2 separate regions of the Homo sapiens genome follow, and region 2 is linked to region 1. The links come from fine-mapping of genetic effects on gene expression. A gene starts in region 1. The other region holds a variant in brackets. All regions are shown on one strand. Distances are between the middles of the regions.

Evidence for each region. PIP is the estimated chance that this variant, and not a neighbour inherited with it, causes the effect.
Region 2: its variant is the best candidate, but not a certain one, in a credible set for the expression of ADGRL2 in pancreas (GTEx, PIP 0.88).

Annotation. Positions count from the first base shown.
Region 1 is chr1:81,799,828-81,802,742 of GRCh38, forward strand. It overlaps ADGRL2 (adhesion G protein-coupled receptor L2), which reads left to right and starts at 1,107. Exons shown (of 24, transcript NM_001366006.2): 1 at 1,107-1,241.
Region 2 is chr1:81,370,927-81,373,841 of GRCh38, forward strand. It overlaps a transcript of ADGRL2 not described here. Among named protein-coding and RNA genes, the nearest start is that of ADGRL2, 430 kb to the right of the region's middle. The variant G/T (reference allele first, on the strand shown) is at 1,268.

The sequences.
Region 1 (2,915 bases):
AATCAGTGGTTTACAAATACATCTGAAAACATAGCTGCTTCCAGCTCAGAAATTTTGCAATAAAAAAAAAATCCATGTTTGAATTTTGTGGCATGCACAGGACACTTAACTGGCTTTTAAACGTTTTTCCAGCGTGATTCGCCCTGTCCTGCTCTGTTCCTTTCAGCTTAGGTCCATCGTAGGCTCTGCCTGGCTGTTTGCTGACATTGCCAACCGAGAGGGGCAAGGAAGTGTGTTCAGAGGACAAGAGCAAAGGCAGTTTCAATGTAAGGAAATGAGGGAAACAGACCTAACAGCTCTGTGACTATACTTGAGAGTAAAGAGCCTTGTAGTCTCCTTTCCTTCCTTTGCTTATCCTGGTGAGTTTAATCAAAAACAAACAAAACGCTCTTGTGAAATATAGTCAATAAAGTCAAAGTTTAGCTGGCTCTACGTAACTACAAAGAAAAAAATCATCGCAATTTAAAAAAATGTAACTTTCATTAACGAGCGCGCCGGAAATCTCAGGTATCAAAGACGCATTAACCCTGGAGCGTCCCCCGCGCGCCGCAGCCGGACGGAGGCAGCCGCGGCGAACAGACGTTCTTTCTCCTCCATGCAGTTACACAAAAGGAGGGCTACGGAAACTAAAAGTTTCGGGGCCTCTGGCTCGGTGCGTGGAGAAAAGAGAAAACCTGGAGACGGGGTGGGTGAAAGACGCATCCCGGGCGCCTCTCCGAAGTCCAGGCCGGGAGCAAGCTCCTGGGCCTAGAGGGGAGGGGGCCCCGAGCCGCTGGTCATCCCCCTGCGCTCAGCCTCGGAGCGCCGCGCTTCGCGGCGCTCTCCCAAATACTCTTCACCCACTCCAGAAATAAAATAAATGTTTTTAAAGTGCATGTGTGTGGACAGGATGGAGAGCGCGCGCCGGCGGAGCGCGCGGAGGACCCAGCGCGCAGTGAGTGGAGTTTGGGGGTGGGCTAGGGGTTAGCGGTTGAATGGGTGTGTTAATGGGGGGAGCTGGAGGCAGAGCTCGGGGACCTGGGGGTAGGGGGAGCGCGAACCGACTGGGAGGGGAGAGAAGGGGAGGGGCGCGAGCTGGCGCAGGCCGCCTCCGGGGCGCGTTCCACGGCCGTGCGCGCGCGTCCCTCGCCGCCACCGCCGCCCGGACAGCCCTGCGGCCGCCCCGCCGGCGGAGCCGGGGCCGGCCTGGTCCTCGGGCGGCTGCTTGGCCACCGCCACCGCCGTCCGAAGGGCTCGAGCCCGTAAGTATCCCCTTTCGCTCCTCCTCCCCGCCGCTTGGGCGCACAGCCGCAGCAGCTGCTCAAATGGAGTGGAAAACGGCCATTGGGCGACAATGAGTTATAGATTATCTGCTCCACGTTTTGTACTTAGCTGCCTGTAATCTTCTTTTGAGTTTGCCCGAGCCCCTTGCTGGAAAACTCAGGAGGGAGAGATTTGTCCTTTGACGCTGTACACGCTAGTATGTTTATATGATTAGCCCAACTGGCGGGGAGGGCGGATTTGGGGGAAGGAGGAGGAGGAGGCTGGAGGTGACTCCAGTTCAGACCTCGCGGAGAGTCTGTGTCAGGACTTCGCATTCCCCCGTCTCTCTCTCTCTCCCTCTCGCTCCCTCTCACTCTCTCTCCGCTCACACACACGCAGAGGTGCTGGGGCGAAATCGGGAGCTTACCAGAGAATTCCTTGGGATTGTTGGGGGGCATCTCCCCTCCGCTGCTGTGTGTGGCGTGGCTCTTCCCGGCTACTCCTTGCTTCCCCGAGCCCGAGTCTGCGCCGCCAGCCTTCCTTGGGGCAGCGGCCACCGCTCAGCCCCGGCCGGGAGATCCGAAATGTGAGGAGGGGTCGCCGCCGCCTCCCGCCCCAGGCCGCAGGGTCGGCGCGAGGGATGCTATTCCGGCCGGGCGCTCGGGGGGCTGAGGGGCTTCGCCTGACAAACTGAGTTGGCCTCGCGCCCCCGGCGCCCTCCCGCCCGTCGCTTCGAAGGGACTCCCAAGTCTGCGCACCTCTGTCAGGCTTTTGCTTCCACCACCCCTTTCGCTCTGATTCCCGATTTTTTTTTCCTAAGGGAGCGTGCGGTCTGGGGGTGTGTGCGTGTGTGTGAAAGACCTCTCTCGAAGAGCGGCGTGTGGGAAACTGCGGGAAAATGTTGACTTAACCCCAGGAGCCGCCCGGCGCTGGCTGCTCGGCTGGAGGCGGCGGCGGCCGAGCAGGAGGACGCGCCGAGCTGCGGCGCCGTGTCCGGCCGGGGAGCTGCGGCGCTGCCTCCCGCGCGGACTCGGCGGCCGAGGACCCGCTCGCGGCCGGCCTCGGCCCTCTCCGGCCGGGGTAGCCGCTGCCCTCCGCGCCTGTCCCCGCGCGGCCCCCACGCCAGACGGCCCTCCCTCGGGGCGCGCTCGCAGACGGAGGTAAGAGCCGCAGGAGCGAACAATGTGCCTCTGTGCCCAGCTTCGGAGACCTGTTTGCTTTGCGCCTCCAGTCCGGGGGTGGATGCTGGAGGCGCAGGGAGCCGCGGGTTAATGGGGCTCGGCTGTTGCTGTTCGGCTGGCCCAGGGGGAGACCCGCGCTCGCTCGGGCTGCTCGCTCCCTCCCCCCAATCTCCTCTTGGAAATCGATCCGCAGAACTCTCAGTCCGGTCCAGCCGGCTTCTCCTTTTCTCGTGGAGCCATTGTAACGCTCTCCAGGCATCAGTCTAGTTGCCGGGGGCGCTGGCAAGGGGGTTAGGATGAGGCTCCCGTAGCCATGCATTTTTTAATTTCATAAAAGCTTGGGGTCGCAAGGTTCCGCCCGTCCTTTCACTGGGGGCCTGGGGAGGAGGAGTGTGAAGCGCGTCCTCGGCGGAGCTTATTTGCTCCGGGCGCTGGGGCCCGGGGCCACCCCAGCGTCCCGCCCGCTTTGCCCTCCGGTCCCGCACTGTAAGT
Region 2 (2,915 bases), 430 kb before region 1:
GACAGTTTTCAATATCGTGTGTGACTTAGTGAGTTCTCTAGTCTAGCGTTTAATGGGAATTTTCAGTATGCTAATAAAATGCTTTTAAAAATGTATCTATTTAGGCCATGTGTACCCAAGTGAGGCAGACATTACTGAAAAGGGGAATAAGTTCTCATTTTCTGTAGTTCATTAATAGTGGCTTTCAGTGGAAAATGCAGCAGCATCTTTAGGGCCTCCACCATCCACAGAACCATTACATTAGCCAAGGCTACTAGAACCGACCACCTCACCCTTCTTATGCCTGTTTGAACTTTGAACTATAGCCATAGGAATAAAATCTCAGTGTTCTGTGCAAATTAGGGTAGATATTTCCACCAAGTCTATTTTTAAATACCAAGTAAGGTTGAAATAGCATAAGGCAGAGAAACAAATGGGAGCTGGAAAAAGACAACTAAAAGATGGGGAGTAGGATGATAAGGAAAGAAAAGTATCAATAAAAAAGATGAGTTTGTAGAATGACATCTGGGTTTCCAAAACTAATGTTTCCCACTAAAAATCTTACACGTTTCTATTAATATTGACACTTGTAAATACTTGCTTTTTGTGAATATAAAATAAGAAATGTAAAGCATTTGGCATAGCATAGGACAAGTATTCCATAATTAATCATTTATCTTCCTTGTAAATGAAACTTTGCATTACATACAAGAAGTAACCTGAAATATAGTGTAAAGGTGTAGCCTTAAATCTCTGTGATTGTTTTTATCTTAATTGTTTACTGGGAAATACAGAGGCCATTTTTCAGAAAGTATGCCATGTTTTTGAACAAGAAAAATTATGCACTTCATCATGGGTTATTTGATTCACCCATCGATCCATGTAACCATTCATTCATTATTCAATAAATTCCTATTGAACAAATCATGTCGAGTATTATGATAATTGCTGGGAATATTGAAATAAACAGAAAATCTAGCATGCTTAAATTACAATGAAAGTAACAGATGTGTAAATAAACAAAGAAAAAAGGAATAAGTGCTAAAACACAGGTCTGTTGTAGGTACAGTTGACAGGCAGTCATGTGAGAAGGGTCAGTGTAGGAGGCTTAGAACACTGAGATCTCTGTCCCGAGACCAGTAAGCTATGGCATAAAGATCTTAGATATCACATGTCAAAGCGAAACAAACAACCTATCCATTGTTCATGTGAAATAGGAGGTCATTCTCAAGTCTGCAATGTCGGTAGAACCTTACAAATTCTACATCAATCAACTTTTTTAAAATGG[G/T]AAACTATTACAGTAGTACTTTAATTAATCATCTGAGAATAAAGATAAAGTCAAACCTTGCTGAGAAAAAAGTGAACAAAAGTCTTCATAAATCATTCAAAGAATATTGGTACATTTAGAGCTCAGGAACCCATGTTACTTCTAAGATATAAAAATGTTAAGCAATGCCAAATAATTGCACATTATGTAAGGAGGGCCGAGATGGCAAACACAAGGGGGAAATATCAGTGCAGTCAAGATTGCTGTTCTCATTTGTACCCTCATGCCCCCATTTGCTAGCACCTGTACAACCTGGAAAGCTTATCTGTTGCTGGATCGATTGATTATAATTCAGCATAAGTAAGTTTCACAGTTTTACCTCATCAGATGTTTTTGGCTTCCTTTGCTTATGGCTCTTGATTAATTAATTAGTTGATTAGTTTATTTTCTCTGTTACTCCATCTCATTCCAAAAACATGTTAAAGTACGAATTTTCTGTTTGTTTAATAATTGACTTTGTCATCTGTTAAAATAATGTACATAACTAGGCAGTTAGAGAGAATTTTCCTTTCTGTAATGAAGCTCTTGAAACCAAACTATACCTGTCTACTTATATGTCTGACCCAGGCACACAGATTGATGATGTACTCCCATATTATTTTGCTTAATCACTCCTCTGTTCCCCAGAAGTGTGTTGGCAACAGCTTAGTATAGAACTGTAATTGTTTCTTTACATAAATGTCTTCTTCCAATGGTTCTCACTTTTTAATGTGCATCATCACATTTATTCAAAGGGAGAGAGCTTGTTAAAACAGAGCTTCCAATAGTCTCTGATTCAGTATGTCTTGGTGCAGCCCCAAAATTTTCCCTTTCAACAAGTGCCATGGTCATGCTAATGCTGCTAATTTGGGGGTCACATGCAGAGGACCTCTGTCTCATCCAATATCTGGTAAATATCTAGTTGGTGGCAATTCAGTCTTACCTCTGTACAGAACCTTTTAGAAAGTGTCCAATAAATGTTGATAACATTGAATAAATGACTGAATCATTGTTCCTGCTTTAGTCCTCTAAGATGGAGATAATTAATAACTCCTGATCCCACTTCTCAAAATGTTAGCCTATGAAAAACCCTAAGCAGGATGAGCCTGGGGGCAAAACCATACTTACAGCTGAAAACCTGGACTGGAAATGTCAAACATTTCCATCTTCAATTTTCCCAATGAGTTCCACATATATTCTTTGGAAGATTCAAAAAGGCTTAATAACAGGATGGATTATGAAAACTGAGAATGAGAAGGAACAATTACAAAACTCCTGTGAGTTTATCAAGAACAAACAGAGCCTGACTGGCAGCAGTTTTCCCTTAGTGATGCTACTTACAGGGTTCATCAGGGAAATATAACTAGCATAAAGTATCTAGGACCACAAAACAGCCTCACTTCTCTTGTAAAACATGGAAAAAAATAAGTTCAATGTCTAGAAAATTACATACATTAATAAGGATGAATGAATGAATATACAGAAGTCAGCCTGAAAAACATCTCTAGTGGTGTGGCATAAGTGTGACACTTCATTACTTAACCTTAAATGTTTGTTTTCAACAAGAGTTTGAATGATGACACGGAGGGTGGGCCACCAAAATTGCAGATGATTCAAAACCGGGAAAAAA